Linked DNA regions of Homo sapiens: regions 1 and 3 are each linked to region 2. The links come from fine-mapping of genetic effects on gene expression. A gene starts in region 2. Each other region holds a variant in brackets. All regions are shown on one strand. Distances are between the middles of the regions.

Region 1 (5,000 bases), 570 kb before region 2:
GAGACAGCTGTCCTCCCACCCTCCCTGGAGAATCCGGCTGGGCTGATGCTGTGTGACACTGGGTGTTGCCACAGGGAAAGGCATGTCCTCTCTTCTACTCTGTGACCAAACAACAGTTTAGCAAAGGGAAGAATTTTAAAGGACATTTTTATACTTCCTGTAATTGAATATTTAACCCACATGCATCTTTCACGCACACACATATTTCTCCAAGCTCCTTCTTAACATTTGTTTTGGATTCTCAGCTAAAATTTTTGAGAATTATTTCTTATTCTTTTTTCAGATTAGCCACCTACAATTAGCTGGGAATAAAATATTAAGGAAACATAGAAAAAATTCAAGAATAAAATTCACCCTGTGCTTGTAGAGGAAGACAAAAAAAGAATGAAGCTTGAGTATGGGGAATTATTAGAAAACAATTTACAATCACTATAATGCAGGAAAATACCAAAGATAGGAAAAAAAAATAACCATCTCCTTGTTTGCTTTTTAAACTGCATAACTCTCTCTGAGAATATTAAACAAACTTAGTGATATGGTTTAAATAATTTGCATTTTCATAAAATAAATTTTTTTAATGAAAAAAAGGAGAGCAACATAATCACCAAAAAAAAAAAAAAAAAAAAAAATGAAGCAGGTGTGTTAACTCTAGAAAAAAAAATTTGCAGGTTAATAGCTTGAATGGTCTTAGCCTCAAGACTTATTCACTTATATATAATTATATGTTGACAAGGTCAAAGAGAGAACAGGTAAAGCTGGAGTTCTTACCTAGCCTCACGGTGACTTAAAGGACAAGAGGCACAGTAACATGTACAAAATGGCGGTGATGAGGTTGGGAGTGATCTGACAGGCACATGGACAGACTGCCCAGATATGTCATTTTGTTGGTAGCATATGGCCTTGACATGGCCCAGATCAATGAGTTATGATTTTAATGCATCTTTGCTACTGAAGCTGCAAATTATCACATTTAATAAGCCAGTATTATTGGTTCACAGACTCACTCTGTAATGTACTGATGCCTTTTTTTTCCTTTTAAATTCAGTGCACTAAACATGTTCAAGTTGCTCTGTATGGCATATAGCGTGACACTTCAGAGAAATAAATACTGAAAGGCTTTCTGATGGAAATGAGGCTAATGATATGGTCAGACAACACATAAAAGTAAACATATTTTTGTTACTCTCTATTTCTCATCTCCTTATTCTGACTCTGTGGGTACTTATGACTCTCGAAACTTATTCACTGTATCCATCCATCCATCCATCCATCCATCCATGCAACATGCATTCATCCAGTAAGTTATTCATTGAGCACCTTCCTGCTGCCTGACATTATAATATGTGTTTGGAACTTACCTTCTAGTGGGAAAGGATAGAAAATATACAAGTTAGCAAAATTAATTAATAATTAGGGTTGTGATAAGTGTTAGGAAGAAAAAACCAAAGTGTTAAAATCCTGATTAACTGGGGAGATCTATCTGGGATCTTGACAAAAAAAAAAAAAGTATTCCATTTAGATAATTCAAATAAAGAAATATGAATGAAGAAATAACTTACAGAGGTATGGGCAGGGTTGAAAGCAGGAACAAGGGATACTGAGGCATCCAGAGGTTGTAACAGCAGAAAGCTGAAATCAAGAGGCAAGGAGAAGAAATGACATTGCCAGAGTCCAGTGAGAGCTGGAGCTATGGAGGATGTGTCACCTGGCAGGATCTCCTGTTATGGAGGGAGGCACTCACAGCCAGGGCCATGATCCAAAGTGAAGAGGAAGGGGAGAAGAAATCACCCACCCTCTTTCTCCTCCCACTTTCCAATCTTCTACTTGTGCTGCCTATCGGCAGAACCTGATCAGAAGCTACCTGGCAAGGGGGCCTCCATGACACAGTCCACAGACACAGTCCATAGGGTTTGGCCTCAGTATTGACAATGGATGGGGCTGGTGGTAAGGAAAAATGGGAGAATGGAGAATAACCAGGAAAGGGGACCTAATTAGGTAGGACAGTCAGGAAAAGCCTTCCAGTGGACATGACATTTTAAGTGACACCCAGAGAGGAGAAGACCCCAGCCATGCAAAGAGCCGGAAGAGATATCCAGCAGAAGGAAGAGCAAGCACGTTCCTTTGGCATTCCCCCTTCTCTGCACCCAACACTCAGTACAGATCCCTCACCAGGCACATGGCTAACAGAGACCCAGACCATCCAAATGAACATCTTCCTATTCTATTTTATCAATATCATAAAAGAGCTTGCTCATAAAAAAGAATGCTCATAACTAGGACGCTTCTCTAAGAAAGGTCCAGCACTTCTGTAAATTCTAACATACAAAGAAAAATCAAGGGAAACATATGTAAAGGCAGGTAAGGGCAGGCAACTGGAACAAGTAAAACTCCCTTCCATATATACAACTTCTCTTTGAAAAGCTCAAGCCTTCCACATGTTGAATAGTCTCATATTGTACAATTTAGGTAAAAGTGTGAGACTGTGCCCATCCTACTCTTAAATGAAGAAACACAATAAGGATTCAATTCCAACGTAATAATAGTTAATGTATACCTATAATTTAAACTCCTACTAATTTTGTTTTAGTTTTATATATACCTCCAAGTCACCAGCTAAAATGTATATAAAATATATGCCTCAAGCCTATTAATCAAAAAATCTACTGACAGATTATTTTATTTTTTCTGATGCTAAGAAACCATTTTTT[T/C]ATATAAAGTAAAATTTTCAGTACTAACAAGATCATCATGTGAATTCAGTGATTTGACTTTTAAAGGTCAGTTTACTGGTTCAAATTCCCTGTGAGGTAGCCAAGTCATTGAAAGGTAAGTCTGCCCCTAAAAGGTATAGAGGGTTTCCTGCTGGTAATTGAAGTTGGGCATCATAGCTTCCTTCCTGTTAATCCTTCATACTCAGGGATGCATTCACCAATGGAAAAATAGTTCCTTTCAAGGACCAATTCCAGGCATAATAATGAGGAACTGCCTGCATGTTAATGAGATTCACCATCTCTCATATCCAAAGCTAACCGTTTTTTTTTTTAATTTTCCTTAAAGATCTTAAGGAACTTCCATTATCCAACTACATTAAATCTAAATTTCCCTAGTGCCTATTTATTTTCTTTTGTTTTGTCCCTGATGAATATGGAAACAGATGGTAATTCTTCTTTTTTAAATTTATGACACTTGCCAAGTCAATGAAAATTGCTGATAAAAATAGTAAGTTCAAAGTGTATTATTACCTGTAGGAGAGGCCGCTGCACTCCCAGCACCTTCATGGTGTCTGCGTTGGCCAGAATCTTCAAAGGGTCAGATGTTTTAGTGACTCCTTCAATCTCCTTGTTGATCTCAGCCAAGACTTGATTGAGAAAGATGTTTTTGATGTACACGGTGAGAAACTCTCGAAGAGGACACTGTTTGGCTGGGCCAAGACCCAGAGCATGCTCAATCTCCTGAATAAATCTGGAGGACAAACAGTAAGAAGGTTATTAAATTTATGAGGAAAATGTTATATAAATACGACATGAGGACATGAGTATATCTAGTGTTGGCTATTTCTGTGAAGAGGGCAGGTCATCAATAATACTCATCTCTATATAATTTTTAATCTTGTAAAAATCTAAATTACTCCACTAATTGAATAGAAATAGGATGAAACAGAAAACATGACTTCTAAAAATGGGGGGAAAAGGAGAAGACAAAAATTATTTTTAATTCCAGAAGGAGATAAGACTACAAGAAACAATGGGAAAATGTGAAAAACAAAAAACACAAATTATTGTGAAATTAAAAAGCACATCCCCGAAGAGTACATATTTCCCACCGAAACCTTTACATCAGGGGTCCCCCTACCCCCACACCGGGCGATGAACCAGTACGGGTCTGTGGCCTGTTAGGAACCAGACCGCACAGCAGGTGGTGAGCAGCCAGCTGGGCGAGCATTACCACCTGAGCTCCGCCTCCTGTCAGATCAGCAATCACATTAGATTGTCATAGAAGCATGAACCCTACCGTGAGCTGTGCATGTGAGGGATCTAGGTTGCATGTTCCTTATGAGAGTCTAATATCTGACCTGTGGTGGAAATTTCATTCCGAAACCATCTTTCCCCCAACCCTTGTCCGTGGAAACATTGTCTTCCATGAAGCCAGTGCTTGTGCCAAAAAAGGTTGGGGATTGCTGCTTTACATGTATATATATAAATGTCAAAAAGAGAGAAACAGAGAGAGAATGAAGGATACTCTAAAATTCATGATGATATGTGAGTTCAGAGGTTAAGAAAGGGAATGGGATGGGAGTTGGAGGACAAAGGAGAACTTCAACCTTACTTGCAATGATCTACTTCCTCTATTAAAAACCCTTAAAGAATACATAACAGAATGTTAATGATTGTCAAGTCTCAGAGATGAGTATAGATTTATTAAAATTCTTATTTTAATAACAAAATAAATTTATTATTAAATTCTTTTTAATTTTCTATACAGGCAGCCCTGATTTGTGTGGTTTAATATGAACAAATTGAAGTTACTACTGTTTTTTAGTTAAATAACATCAGTCCATCAATTACATAGTTTAAATACCTCAATACCACAGTGTAGTCACCACAGTACATTAAACTTAAGTAACTAAAGTATAAACTTTGTTGGTAGCTCCTCTGAAATCCCTGTGTAAATAACTGATGTGTGTTCATCATGATTAGTGACCAATCACATCCCTTCTTCCAATGTCTATTAGCAACTGGTCACTGTGCATTTGTTATTCACTTCATGGACAGGGAGCAAAGCAAGCAGCTGTGGTGCCTCCCTGTCCCCCACTGATAAATCCATGTGGCATTTTATAAAAATGGATCAATGAAAGAGGGAATTGGCCAACAAAGATAAAAGTACCGCAAAGTGATAACACTGGAAGTGAAATTTGAACTGAATGTAAACGGAGTTACAGGAGAAAGAGCTGACCCTGGGAATGTTGACACTGCTGCCATTGGAGAGGCATAGCCAGACTGAAG
Region 2 (7,496 bases):
TTTTGGGAGGCCAAGGCAGGCAGACAACAAGGTCAAGCGATCGAGACCATCCTGGCCAATATGGTGAAACCCTGTATCTACCAAAAATACAAAAATTAGGTGGGTGTGGTGGCGCACGCCTATAATCCCAGCTATGCGGGAAGCTGAAGCAGAAGAATCACTTGAACCTGGGAGGCGGAGGTTGCAGTGAGCCGAGATCGCGCCACTGCACTCCAGCCTGGGGACAGAGCAAGACTCTGTCTCAAAAAAAAAGAAAAGAAAAGAAAAGAAAAGCAATATAATGCACAACAGAGATCAAAGTAAAAAATACCTAGGCCTAAATCACAGTGATAAAATGAAGGTCATATATTAATAAACTGGCATAAGAGATGGATGGATAACCACAAAATCTTAGCCATCAAGCAGTAGGGGGTTCCTCCTGGAGAATATTAAGGAATGGTCAAGCAAAGGCAATGTATGTTCTGAATTAGCATTAGTAAAAAAAGCTTTAGGTTGGCTTTCATGCTGTTTTCAAAAATATGACATTTAGAGTAAATTCAACTGGCCCTGAGGAAAATACAAATAGCATAAAAGAAATGGGAACAGCCTGGAGAATCAAAAGTACACAGATGAGATGACACATTTCACTTTCATTAGAAACAGCCACTCCTCCTGGATTTCCATAACATTTCATGTCTCTCTCGTAGTCTTATGTCATCATTTTTACTGACATGTTTTATCCCCCAGGTAAACTATACTCTCCTCAAGGGTAACACTGTGCCTGCTTCATCTTTGCAAAACTCAGGGCATTTACTCATTAAGTCAACAAATATTATTCAATATGTAATACGTGCCAGACGCCATACTGTCAACTGGCACTAAATACCTATTGTTTAAATAAATGTTGACTATAAGGTAGAAAAAACAAACAAGTTCAAAAAAGGATCCAAATAATGTCCTGGTATTCTAATTCCACAGGAAATTCAGATGGGAAACAACAAACATTCTTATTGGAATTTTAGTATCATGAGATACATCTACACTACCTGCGTATTGTCACAGCGAGAATGTGGGCCTATAGATTCACAATACAACAGCACTTCCTCTGTATGGCCTACCAAGTATATTAAGCATTTCCACACAGAGATGTTTTTCTCTTAAGCCCAAAAGAAAATTAAAGTAATGATTTAATAGGCCATAATCTTAAAGCCTCCTAAATAAGACCCATAAGATGTGTCTTTGTCAGTGAGTGGTAAGCTGTTCTAATGGTTTGATACATGCATTCATTGAAGTGCTTAGTACCTACCAGATAATGTTGGGCCCTGGGTTTTGAAAAGATGATCAATACATTCCAGAAAACTTGCAAGAACTCAAACAAAAGTTTAGTATAGGTGGGGAAAAATAGAGTGTTTGTTTATGAAAAATAAACGAGTTGAAATTCAAATGCCAACAACGTAAAAAACGTGCCATAATAAATTTTATTTAGATTGGTTTTAGTCAGTACCTGCATCATATCCAAGATTCTTGAAAGGGTTCCCCCATCCTCAATATATTTCGCTTTTTTAAAAAAAAGCTCCTAAAAGATCCACCGCTCCCACTCCACCCCCACCCTAATCTTCTGGGAGGTGCAGAGGGGCAGTGCATGGAGGATAATTTGAAATTGGTTTGGTTCTGTTTTTTAAGGAATGGACCAGAATGCGGAGGCAGGGCAAAAAATTGAAAACCGATGTGTGCCTTCAAACCCAGTCCTCCTACCAGCTCACTGCAGATTCTTGTATTTGTGGCTGTGGCCACGCACAGGTGGTTGAAAGTATCCAGAGTGTGAAAACACAAATCTGCAACTCGTGACAGGAATCTCCGGACTCCAAGGCCTTACACCCCAAAGTCCAGGAAACAAGACGCCTTTCTCAGTGAGTGCTGCTACAGGCAAACAATAAACAAGCATTTTAGGAATCAATAAACACACCTTTACACCTGGTTTTCTCTACCAAACCCAAATAGCGTGCTTTGGGGTCCCGAGACTGTAATAGAAGGTGCTGCCCCTAAAGAAAAGACTGAGGCGGGGCTCCTCTCTCTATAGCTAACCCCAGAAAAAAAAGGTGGAGGGGGAATTGCTGGGGCCCTGGGGAGGGGTTAGAGCCCTGGGGAGGGGCTGCGGGAGGCAAGGAGGAAAGGGGAGAGCAGGGTGGGACCCAGCTAACCCTTCTCCCTTCCAAAGCGGAGGTCGAGCCGCTGCCCCCAGTCCCCAGACCCTGCCTCCTGCCTCCCTCACCTGATCACAGAGATGAGCAGCCCCGAGGGGTCTTTGCTTTTGCTGACTGTGCTTCTGTATTTCCCACCAGCTGCTTCTGCCGCCATCTTGGACGCGGGGAGAGCCGCTAGGCTCCAAGGAAGCCAAGGGTGCGTAAATTCTGTATTTGACCCCGCAGGAGTCTCCACCAATGGGTGAAGAGAATTCCAGAGGCGCGGAAGTGGAAAATCCAATCACTGAAGTGAGGAGGCGGGACTAAGGGAGCAAGTTTTGAGGCCACGACGCGCGTGTTCTCTCTAAGCACTCTGGGAGTCGTAGTTTTCCTTCTCCGTCTCCTGGGCGCGCAGGAAAGCTAAACCAGCTGCAACTTCCTAAGTCTTGTAATGAGTGTCTTCATTTATCTTTATTCTGACTTCCAGCTTTTTTCAGTTTCCTTGCTTTTAGAATTTTGTCAGGCTTTAAATCAAATTTATCTGATGATGCCAAAATGTGTTAGGGTTTGTATTTAAATGAAAGAGGGGTTCTCTGCCGGATGTCTATGTGCGAAGTTTTTGCCTTAAGTGCAAGTGATTTTTTAAAAAATCCAATAAAATACGAAAATGAATATAAGCAGAAATGCTTTTCTTTAGTATTCTGTAAAACTAATGTTTCTACATTAGGTTTATGTGGAGTTCAATTTTTCCCAATGTTCCTATATTTCCAGATAGTTCTAAAACCACACGTACAGGAATAAATGAATATTGATGAAGAAAAGACAGTATAAGCTAAAAACAAACAGACCACACTGCAGATTCCTTTTTTTTTTTTTTCAAGCTAAATGAAATACTTAGTAGTAATGCACATTTGTGTTAATACTTTTACCGGTAAGTTTTTAGTATTTCCTGCATTTGGTTCCGTTGGCTTAGTCATTAATTCATAAGACCAAATGAACAAAACAAAACAAAAAAGACCAGAATGTGCGTGGAAAGTGGTTAGACTGAGGAACAAGAATAATAATAATTTAAAAGTAAGGAAGGAGGTGGCCTGCTCAGTAGCAATAAAGATTGAAGAACTTAAAGGAATAGAAAGCAAACTAACTCAGAGGTCATGGAGTTGTGAGCAGCAAGCTCAGAACACATCAATTACTTTTATTAAATAGACATCGAGCTGGTAGAAGTTCACATTTTTAAAAATTAGTTGAAGATAACACACACACACACACACACACGATAACTTAAAAGTATTCATAACCTTTGGCCCAATAATTCCAGTTCTAGGGACTTTGTTCCTAAAGAAATATAGAGTATTGACATTTTTTAAATAACACAGAAGAATTAAATAAATTATGTAACATTCAAATGAGGAAATAACATATAGCTTCTGGAAATCATAATTTTAATGGCTTTTAAAGAAAATAAGATTTTTGGGCCAAGTGTGATGGCTCACACCTGTAATCCCAACACTTTTTGAGAGGCAGAGCCGAGCAGACCACTTGAGGCCAGGAGTTTAAGACAAGCCTGGCCAACATGGTGAAACTCCGTCTCTACTAAAAATGCAAAAGTTAGCCGGACCGTGGTGGTGTGTGCCTGTAATCCCAGCTGCTTGGGAGGCTGAGGCATGAGAATTGCTTGAACCTAGAAGGCGGAGGCTGCAGTGAGCCAAGATCGTTCCACTGCACACTGCACGCCAGCCTGGGCAACAGAGGGAAACTCTGTCTCAAAAAAAAAAAAAAAAAAAAGATTTTTATGGTATAAGTACAAAAACTGGGCTATAAAATTAAATAATTCATAGAGAAAGGGAGAGGCAGTTGGGCCTAGTGGTTAAGAATGCAGGACAGGCCGGGCGCCGGGTGGCTCATGCCTGTAATCCCAGCACTTTGGGAGGCCGAGGCGGGCGGATCACGAGGTCAGGAGATCAAGACCATCCTGGCTAACACGGTGAAACCCTGTATCTACTAAAAAAAAATACAAAAAATTAGCCGGGCGTGTTGGCGGGCGCCTGTAGTCCCAGCTACTCGGGAGCCTGAGTCAGGAGAATGGCGTGAACCCGGGAGGTGGAGCTTGCAGTGAGTCGAGATCGCGCCACTGCACTCCAGCCTGGGCGACAGAGCAAGACTCTGTCTCAAAAAAAAAAAAAAAAAAAAAAAAGAATGTAGGACATAGGATAAAAAGTGTGTGATCATCTCAACTGTTGCAGAAAAAAGCTTTGTCAAAATCCAAAACACTCTTACAATAAAAACACTCAGAAAACTAGGGATAAAAGGGAACTTCTTATAGGCTATAAAGGGTACTTATGAACAACCCACAGCAATCATCATAGTCGATGAAAAACTGAAAGCCTTCCCACTAATATTAGACACAAAAAAAGGATAACCATTTTTTTGCCACTTCTATTCAACAAAGTACTGCAAGTTATAGCCAGAGCAATGAGGCAAGAACATGAATAAGTCATCCAGATTGGAAAGGAAGAAATAAAACAATATCTATTTTTGGATGATATGATCTTATATATAGAATATCCTAGAGAATACACACAAAAAACTATTAGAGCTAATAAAATATTCAGCAAAGTTGCAGAATACAAAATCAATAGCAACAGAAAATCAGTGGTATTTCTGTAAACTGGCAATAAACTATCCAAAAAGGAAATTTACACAACAATTCCATTTCCAATAGCAGCAAAAAGAATAAAATGCCTACGAATAAACTTAGCCATGAAAGTGAAAGACTGCTACACTGAAAGCTACAAAACATTGCTGCAAGAAATACAAGAAGACTCAAATAAATGGAAAGACATCCATGTTCATGGGTTGGAAAACTCAATATTGTTAAGATGGCCAAACTCCCAAAGCTATCTACAAATTCAATGTAATTCCGATAAAAATTCACTAGGCTTTTTGTGCAGAAACAGAAAAACTGATCCTGAAATTCATACGGAAATTAAAAGAGCCCCAAATAGCCAAAGCAATCTTGGAAAAAAAAAAAAATCAATGTGGAGGTCTCACACTTCCTGATTTCAAAACTTACTAAAAATCCGCAGTAATCAAAATAGCATGGTACTTGCATAAAAATAAACACATAGATAAATATAGTAGAATAAGCCATACAGAAATAAGCCTATTCATCTATGATCAATTGATTTTCTTTTTTTTTTTTTTTAGACGAAGTCTCTTTCTGTCACCCAGGCTGGAGTGCAGTGGCTCAATCTCAGCTCACTGTAACCTCTGACTCCCAGGTTCAAGCAATTCTTGTGCCTCAGCCTTCCAAGTAGTAGACACGGGGTTTTGCCATGTTGGCCAGGCTGTTCTTGAACTCCTGACCTCAGGTGATCTGCCCACCTCAGCCTCCCAAAGTGCTGGGATTACAGGCATGACCCACCGCACCCAAACAGTCAATTGATTTTCAACAAAGCTGACAGTACCATTCAATAAGGAAAGAATAGTCTCCTCAATAGATGGTGTTGAAAACTGGATAAGCATAAGCAAAAAAGTGAAGATGGACCCTACCTCATACAATATGCAAAAATTAACTAAAAGTGGATCAAAGACCTAAATATGAGATAAAACTCTTAGAACAAAATACAAGGGTAAATTTTCATGATTCTTAGCTATGACATCAAAAGCATAAGCAACAAAAGAAAAAATAGGTATATTGGGCTTTATTAAAATTAAAAACCCTCATACATCAAAGTACACTTTTCAAGAAAGTGAAAAGACAGGCACAGGATGGGAGAGAATAAAAGCAAATCACATACAGTATCTGGTAAGAGTTCTGTATCTAGACTATGTGAAGAACTCTTACAACTCAACACAAAAGGAAATAAAAATTAAAACCTAGGCAATGGATGTGAATAGACATTTCTCCAAAGAAGATACACAAATGGCCAAAAAGCACATAAAAAGATGCTCGACATCATTAATCATTATAGGAAAATGCAAAACCATAATGAGATACCACTTCACACCCACTAGGTTGGTTACAATTTTTTTAATGGAAAATAAATGTTGGCAAGTATGTGGAGAAACTGGAACCCTTGTACATTTATTTTGGGAATGTGAAATGGTTCAGCCATTGCAGAAAACAATTTGGTGGTTCCTTAAAAAACTAAACATAAAGTTACCATATGACCCAGCAATTCCGCTCATAGGTATATGCACAAGAGAATTGAAAACAAGTGTTCGGAAAATAACTTGTATACAAACATTCATAAAAGCACCATTCAAAATAGCCTAAAGGTGGAAGCAGTCCAAATGTTTAACAATGAATGAACTGCAACAATATGACTGTATCAGTGTGGTATAAACAAAATGTGCTATATCCATACAATGTAATATTATTCACACATAAAAATGAAAAAAGTACTGATATATGCTACAATATTGATAAATCTTGAAATCATGCTAACAGAAAAAAGCCAGACACAAAAGGCCATATTGTGTATAACCCCATTTATCTGAAATATCCAGAACAGACAAATTCATAGAGACAGAAAGCAGATCAGTGGTTGCCAAGGGCTGCAGGGCAGGAAGAAATGAGGAATGACTGCTCAATGGATACAGAGTTTCATTTTGGAGTGATGAAATGTTCTGGAACTACAGTCAATGGTTGCATAGCTTGTGAATGTATTAAAGGTCAGTAAATTATAAACTTTAAAGTAGTCAAAAGTCATAAATTTTATGTTATGTGTTTTTCACCACACCTTAAAAAAAAATGCAGTTTGTGTAGCAGGATGGCCTAGATTCAATCCCAGCTTTCCACTTCCTGGCTAGATTACCTAGGACAAGTTACTTAACTTTACTCTGCCTCAGTTTCTTTATCTGTAAAGCAGGTGGTCATTGTACTTCACATAGAGAGTTATTGTAAGAATATGTGAGATATACATTATCAGCACTTGGTAAATATCAGCTATTATTACTAAAGTATGGTACTAATTTTGTTGAAAATACATCTCTGGGGTTATTGCAAAGTTGTTTTGAGCGTCAATAACATGGGTAATTTTTTTTTTTTTTTTTACACTTTTCTGTGTTTTACAAAGTTTCCGGGATGGGCACAGTGGCTCATGCCTGTAATCCCAGCACTTTGGGAGGCCGAGGCAGGTGGATCACCTGAGGTTAGGAGTTCGAGACCAGCCTGGCCAACATGGCAAAACCCCGTCTCTACTAAAAACATAAAAACTAGTGGGGCGTGTTGGCAAGCTCCTGTAATCCCAGCTGCTCTGGGGGCTGAGGCAGGAGAATTGCTTGAACCAGGGAGGCGGATGTTGCAGTCAGCCAAGATTGTGCCACTGC
Region 3 (7,704 bases), 820 kb before region 2:
TTAGAGGGTAAACACTTACTGCTGAGGATGGGTAATAAATGGTACTGAAATAGAAAGTTCCTAAGGAAAAAGGGGCTGGTCCAGTGAGATAATTAGACATCAGGATTTTGGAGCAGGGATGTGTGGCAACTTGTAGGGGGTTTTAAGCTTTAATAACAGTTAATTATTATAGACAGCAGATTTATAATCTCTATAATATTATAGATATAATATTATATATAGTTAACTATTATAGTTTTTTTTCTGTTTATGTGTTGGATTTACATAGAAGCTTTCCTGTGAGTACTCAGAGACACTGAATTAAGACCTATGTATCTGAGCTCACTAATACTACAGGAGTTCAAATAAATGAAAAAGGGGGGTAAAGCAAAAGACATAAATAAACTGGGGGGATCCAGGATTGCTCACTGTGATGGTTGATGCAGGAAATTAAAGAAAAATCAAATTAAAAAGAAAGCAAAATAAGTTTTCCTGTATTAGGCTGACTTGTCCCAGAGGCAGCAACAGGCACAGCCAGATCCAGGAAAAGTCTTGATAATATTATCTAATGTGCTCTGGAGACTCTCCCAGCACTCCCTCAACATAAGGAGAAGAAAAACAAATTTTCCTTTGTTTTATGGAATGAGTTTATAGATTCCTATTCTCTGTAACTAGTGACTTCAAGTATTCTGTTTTATCTAAGAAGTACAATGAAGGTCATGAGGAGCCTGAGTAGGCCTGAACTACAGCTGCCTGGGCACCATAGTGAAGGTTACAGGATAAGCCTGTGCTCAGACAAACCTAGATAACAGACATCTGGGTTGCTTGGCAACAGTCATGTGCAATCCTGTCTTTGTCCTCCCTCTGTATCCCTGCTTTCATGCCCCTGTAAGCTTGCTTTAAGCTAGCCCACCCCCTTTTGTGAAGTGTGTATAAAATTCAGGTGCGGTCTTTGTTCTGGGCCCAATTTTTTGGAGGTGAGTCAGCTGGGCCTGAGCGCACTCAATAAAGATTCTCCTGTTTCAACCTGAGGTCTCTCTCGTCCTCCTGAATCCCGCAACAGTGGTTAGTTTTATATGTCAACTTGACTGAGCTAAGGGATGCCCAGATAGCTGGTAAGACATTATTTCTGGGTTTGTCTGTGAGGGTGTTTCTGGAAGGGCTTAGCATTTGAAGCAGTAGGCTGTGTAAAGATCTGTCCTCACCAATGTGGGTAAGCATCATCCAATTTGTTGAAGGCCCTGATAGAATAAAAAGGTGGAGGAAGGACAAGTCTTTCCTTCTTTCTTTGAGTTGGGACATCCATATTGTTCTGTCTGTAAACATTGGAGCTCTTGGTTCTTGAGCCTTTGTACTCTGAGACTTAGACCAGTCCCCCACCTTCAACTCCCCCACTGAAAGTTACACCACTGGCTCTACTCGTTTTCAGGCCTCCAGACCTGGGCTGAATTACATCACCAGCTTTCCTGATTCTTCAGCTTGCAGATGGCAGATTAGGGAACTTCTCAGTCTCCATAATCATGTGAGCCAACTCCCATAATTCTGTCTCCTCATCTCTCTCTCTCTTGCTCTGTTCTCTCTATTATACACACACACACACATATGCAGATCCTCAACTTATGATGGGTTTATCAGGATGTAAGTTATGGAGTGTTACTGAATGAATATTGCTTTTGAACCATTGTAAAGCCAAAAAATTTTACGTCCAACCATTGTAAGTCATTGATCATCTGTATATGTAATTCTAGGGGTGCAAAGATTCCATGTATCTGCTGAGTTCTAACAAGGTTAGCACAAAAAAGTGAAGAATATTTGTTGTTCATTTATTGAGATATACATATATATATATATATACAATTATAGATGATAGTTTTTTCTATGTTAGATATATATTTATATATTTTTTGTTTATATGTTGGATATGTACATATATGTTAAAGAGAGATATATATATATGCTATTGGTTCTATTTCTCTGGAAAACCCTGGCTAATACACTCCTTGAGTGAACAACACATACTTGTTGCTTCTGTCTTTTTTTTTGAGACAGAGTCTCGCTCTGTTCCCCAGGCTGGAGTGAAGTGGCGTGATCTCGGCTCACTGCAAGCTCCGCCTCCTAGGTTCACACCATTCTCCTGCCTCAGCGTCCCGAGTAGCTGGGACTACAGGTGCCTGCCACCACGCCCAGCTAATTTTTCTGTATTTTTAGTAGAGACGGGGTTTCACCGTGTTAGCCAGGATGGTCTTGATCTCCTGACCTCGTCATCCACCTGCCTCGGCCTCCCAAAGTGCTGGGATTACAGGTGTGAGCCACTGCGCCCAGCCTTGTTGCTTCTGTCTTTAGGACAGACATGTACTGACTGAGGACTTGTTGGGAAATCACTATCTTTTCTCATCCTTCAGCCTCTAAATTTGGCTCTTATTCTCAATCCTCCACTCAACTAGTTCTCTTTAAAGTCAAAATTTCATCCCTCATTGAAATTCCCTTGCTCTTTCTGCTCTCCTCACTGTGATCAGCCTCTTCGTTGTGTGTATCAGTCAGGATAGGGAGGGTTAGGCTGCAGTAACAAACAATCTCAAAATGTCAATGGCTTTAAACAACAAAGATGTATTTCTTACTTACCTCATATGTCCACTGCAGGTCAGCTGGGGCTCTGCTCTGCATCTTCCTCCCTCTGGAACCCTAGCTGAGTGAGTGGTCACTATCTGGAACATTGCTGGCCATTGTGACAGAGGGGGCACTGAGCTCTGGAGGGTTTCACACAGGTAATTAAATGGCTTTGGTTGGGAAGTGACACCCTTCTACTCATAACTTATTGGCCACCTAATCCCATGGTACCACCCAAACACAGAAGAGCCCTGATATGGTTTGGCTGTGTCCCCACCCAAATCTCATCTTGAGTTGTAGCCCCCATAATCCCCACGTGTGGTGGGAGGGACCCAGTAGGAGATGACTGAATCATGGGGGCAGTTTCCCCCACAATGTTCTGCGGTAGTGAATAAGTCTCATGAGATCTGATGGTTTTATAAGGGGTTTCCCCTTTCACTTGGCTCTCATTCTGTCTTACCTGCTGCCATCTAAGACAAGCCTTTTGCCTTCCACCATGATTGTGAGGTCTCCCAAGCCATGCGGAACTGTGAGTCCATTAAACCCCTTTTTCCTTATAAACTACTCAGTCTTGGGTATGTCTTTATCAGCTGTGTAAAAACGGACTAATACAGGCTCAGAAATGCAATCCTACTATATTCCTGGAAGAGGGAGAGCAAGATATATTGAGAACCTAATGAAAACCTCAGACCTGATTTCATATAATGCACTTATACACCATCACCCCAAATCACCCATGCTGTATGCATGTAATTCTAGAGGGTTCAAAGATCCCATGTATCTGCTGACTGCCAGCAAGGTAAGAAAAAAGAAGTCAAGAACATCCAAAATGTGCCAGGCCTCCTGCTAGGCAGGTTTGCCTTGGCTAGTTTTCATGACTGCACTGTGCTGATCCTCCTCATACTCCTGAGTTTTCTTTTGCTTCACTTTCTTTGCTTACTTTTTTTTTATACTGTGGAGGTTGACAAACTGCATACCTTCATCTCAGCCCTCACATTGATTCTCTAGCTCCACTTGTTTTTCAAGACCATGGTCCAGTTCCATTTTCCCAGTTAAGTTGTATTTGACTAACGATAGTCTACAATCATTATTCGTTTTACTGAGTTCCTCAGAAATGCTCCGTGAGCCTTCAGTGGTACACTGGCTTACGATACTCCATAGTGGATTCGTGTGTGTTGCCCTGTTCTTTCCATGCGACATTCATGTCTTTGAAGGCAGGACCTTGCCTCTATCCCTCCACTTGGCAGTCTAACAGCATGATTCACCTGGGGGCTCCCAAATGCAGGATCCTGGGAGTGGCAGTCGAGACCTGGATGCTGGTCCTGGCTCAGACATGAACTAGGCATCCCCACTCTCCTCTTGGGCCTCCTCCCTTTGCTCCTCTGGCTCCTTTGAAAAATGAGATGGTTGGGACGGAAGCTCTCTCAGGTTCTATCCATTTCTATGAATCCACAACAGGTGTTATTGAGAAAGTAATTGATGCCAACCCCCCACCCAAAATTAGGATAAAAGATTCCCACTGCCACCCTATAGGGTTACCTGGGGATTGCTCTTGAGTCCAGGCTCTCTTTATCCTCAGAAGTCTGGTTAACAA[G/A]CTTCTTGTTTCAGGGCAAAAGAAAAGAAAGGGGAGAAGAAGGGAGGGGAGGAGAGAGAGAAAACTTATCTTCACTCAGATAATCCCTCCAGCAGCCTATTGTTTTGAAAGGTCTAGGCCCAGGGAAGGAGGGTTTGCTCTCCCAGTGGCAGAAAGGAAAGAGACTCTGGGGTCAGGAGGAAAGAGGAGAGAACTGCCCAACCTGGAGTGTTGGGTCCCCCAAAGCTGAGAAGAGACAAGGGCTGTAGCATGCACGGTAGCTCCACGACATCCAGCTCACAGTGCCCACAGAGGGCAGGACCTCGTGTCAGGCAACTGTGAGGGATGCCTGTGGTGGATGGACACTGAGGCCTGGAGGTCCCCGGAACAAAGCCTGGGCACACTAGAAAAGACTCTGCCTGTGGAGGGCAGGGCCTGACGACAGCACCAGACAGTGTTTAGAGTCTTCACTGTGTCGCAGAAGGAGCCCGGGGAAAGAGTGATCAGGATGCCCTGATGACGTAGTGCTCACCCCGCTCTCCTGACCTGCTTCAGCAGCAGGGTGTTGGTGCAACCTGAAGGAGGGGAAGCCTCTCACCAAAACCCCCATCCCCTGCCTGTGAGTAAATCACAATGACTGGAGTCGGACTTCTGCTGAGAATGGTTAAGTGGGGGCTCCAAGCCAGATTTGATTTTTAAAAATTAAAAAAAAAAAGAATGTGACATTTTTCTCACCTCAATTTCATAGAGCAATTTGTGAACTTATTAGAAATCCATGGGCTGACATTCCTCAGCCAAGGTAGAAAGAGTAACAGCAAACTCAAACCTCAGGCAGAAGGCCATTACGTCTGTGAAGGTCTGGTCCCTAAAGGGTAGTGGAGCCTTCAGAGTTAATGAGATGCACATAATATGCTGGCAGGCAACGAGATGCAAAACCCTCGCTAATAGCTAAAATGGAAGCAGGCTTAAGGAAGCAGACACTGAGGGCAGTCGGCATGTGTGGGGAGGGGGCTGAAACAATCGTGTAAGATCAGAACGTCCAGTTTCTATGATGAGGATGGATGGTTCTGGGGGCCTTTAGGTGTCCACATACAGCAAGTAACAGTCTTGGGTCCACCCTGCCATAGCCTGGGGCCTTTCTTTGTTGTTTTTTTTTTTTTTTTTTTTTTTTTTTGAGAGGAAGTCTCTCTCTGTTGCCCAGGCTGGAGTGCAATGGCATGGTCTTGGCTCACTGCAACCTCCATCTCCCAGGTTCAAGCGATTCTCCTGTCTCAGCCTCCTGAGTAGCTGGGATTATAAGCACCCGCCACTATGCCCGGCTAACTTTTTGTATTTTTAGTAGACATGGGGTTTCACCATGTTGGCCAGGCTGGTCTCAAACTCCTGACCTCAAGTGATCCACCTGCCTCGGCCTCCCAAAGTGCCAGGATTACAGGCATGAGCTACCATGCCCAGCCTAGCCTGGGCCTTTCTAACCAAGAAGCGCTGTAAGCGGGGCTGCACTCTTACACTTCAACACAGCAGGCTTTCTTGATAGTGTGTCTGAAACTCCTCAAAGAAACAGACAGGATATTATTTGTTATGTATATATAATACTAATGACATGCCAGGCACTGAATGCCTCTGTTGGACAGGAGCTATTAGTATCACTGTTATCCCATTTCAAAGATGAGGCAACAGAGGGCATTTTTAAGCACTTGTAACCACATCAAACCACCTGCAAAGTTGATGGTCTTCAGGACACGCTACTCCCAAATCTGGCACCTTAGCATAGCGAACAGTTTAAGCAGAAGGAATTTGAGAAACAGCATGTTCAGGAAGGTTTCTCTGACCTCCCCTGGCCATTCCTCTTCTTTCCCCTCTGCAGCAGGTCCTAAAACCTAGGAAGACTTTTCTGACCTTCCCCTGAAGCAGGCCTAAGACCCTCCTGTGAGAGACCAGGCTGGGCGATACAGCGAGACCCTGCCTCGAAAACACCATCACCACCACCACCACAAACAGCAGCAAAACCCCACCCAGGTTTAATTACTTCTTCAGGTCTTCATTTTTTTTCATGTATAACTTACATTAAATAAATTAGTATGCTTTCTTCTTCTTAATCTGTCTTTTGTTACAGGGGTTCCAGACAATGAACCTAAGATAGATAGAAGGAAAAGATAAGTTGCCTCCCCTATGAAGGCTAAGGCAACATGTTGAGCCAAGATACACCAGATTCTAGAACCTGAGCATTTAGCTTCAACCTCTTGGGGTTATCTCCAGCCTCCAACTGGTGGGGGGTCAGCCCCTGAACCAAAGGTTTGTGTTTCCAAGATTTCTGTCAATGTACTGGTCACAGGGATGGGCTCAGGCAGCTGTGGGTGGAGGAGAAGCAGAGAGGAGAGTGGGCAATGGTGGCCCCAAATGTGGTCCAGAAATGGTTCCTGCTGGAGGTTACAGGAGAGGACAGGGTGAATGGATGAGTCAGACTACCAGTATCACTTGGGGCTCAAATATAGCATGTGAGAGTCCCTGCCTTTGCCACACTAGACAAGGGGGTTTGGCTCAAAATAGCACAGAGGGGGGTTCTGTAGCAGTGAGAGAAATCTAGCATAGTTGACTCCATCTTGCTTCTAACCCCCAAGCAAACTGCCTTTGCTCATTCCTGCATGTAGGCCCAGCTAACTATGGGAGGAATTTAGTGTATAGCTTAACTTTAAAGCAAGGATGATAATAGGGCCTTCCCCAAACTAACCCCTGAGGAGATAAGAAGGGCATACACCCAAGAACAATGTTATGCTAAAGACTTGTAGGAGTGCTGTGACCTGAACAAAGAAAAAGAAGTTATGAAACTCCCTCAGACTCTTGCTGACACCCAGATGTCTGTGGTCACCTGTCACCTCCTGACCTTAACCCCCTCCTTGTTCCCTTTACCCAATATAAAAAGAAGCTTGAGATTCATACCTTTGAAGATGGTCCTTTAGGACACCAGTCTGCCATCTTCTCAGTTTGCTGGCTTCCTGAAATAAAGTCACTTTCCTTTATTTGGAAAGAATAGTTGAGTATGTCTTGTCTTATTGGCTGTTGTGAGACGAGTGGTATGAGCTTTGGATTTGGCTACGGTTCCAGAATGAACTCTGGTGTTGGGCAGAGCTGGCTCACTTACCAGATCTGGTGCAAAGCCCTTAATCCGAGCCTTAGTTTCCTCTGTAAAGTAGGGATGATAATAATATACATCTTGTAGGATTATTGTGAGGATTAAATGAAATAATGTGGTAAAGCATTTAGCACAGCACCTGATACACATGAAGTGTTCCATAAATGGTGTCTAGAATAACGTAGTAGCAATCATAAAATAAAAACAACCACAAAAACCAGCTACTAATGGTTTCCTGATCTCTCTCACACAGTAAATAAATCCTTGTGTGAAAGAAAACTTGAGCTGGTGATAATTAAATCAGTTTGGGATGAGAAGATTGCTGGGTTTTCTGTTTGGAATCAGGTTCCTGCTAGAGTATCTATTGCAAAGTCAGCAGGAATCTGAGGTCACCTTTCTAAATGAGATCAAG

Which allele goes with the higher level. Alleles are on the strand shown, and positions count from the first base shown. SD is a standard deviation of normalised expression in the study named. Not every link is listed here.
With allele C in place of T in region 1, the expression in breast of the gene that starts at base 2,361 in region 2 is lower (moderate effect, 0.49 SD a copy in GTEx).

The links. PIP is the estimated chance that this variant, and not a neighbour inherited with it, causes the effect.
Region 1: its variant is the best candidate, but not a certain one, in a credible set for the expression of EXOC4 in breast (GTEx, PIP 0.84).
Region 3: its variant is the best candidate, but not a certain one, in a credible set for the expression of EXOC4 in whole blood (TOPMed, PIP 0.52).

Annotation. Positions count from the first base shown.
Region 1 is chr7:133,815,784-133,820,783 of GRCh38, reverse strand. EXOC4 (exocyst complex component 4) reads right to left here. Exons shown (of 18, transcript NM_021807.4): 11 at 3,240-3,459. All of the region lies in intron 3 of LOC101928861 (a long non-coding RNA gene), which reads left to right. Among named protein-coding and RNA genes, the nearest start is that of LRGUK, 310 kb to the left of the region's middle. The variant T/C (reference allele first, on the strand shown) is at 2,709.
Region 2 is chr7:133,247,943-133,255,438 of GRCh38, reverse strand. It overlaps EXOC4 (exocyst complex component 4), which reads right to left and starts at 2,361. Exons shown (of 18, transcript NM_021807.4): 1 at 2,252-2,361. The coding sequence starts at 2,337. RefSeq lists enhancers at 2,275-2,334, 2,545-2,594.
Region 3 is chr7:134,070,835-134,078,538 of GRCh38, reverse strand. It overlaps LOC105375514 (a long non-coding RNA gene), which reads left to right. Exons shown (of 3, transcript XR_007060531.1): 1 at 1-1,501; 2 at 2,620-2,744; 3 at 6,027-6,112. It also overlaps a transcript of EXOC4 not described here. Among named protein-coding and RNA genes, the nearest start is that of LRGUK, 53 kb to the left of the region's middle. RefSeq lists an enhancer at 6,848-6,947. The variant G/A (reference allele first, on the strand shown) is at 4,181.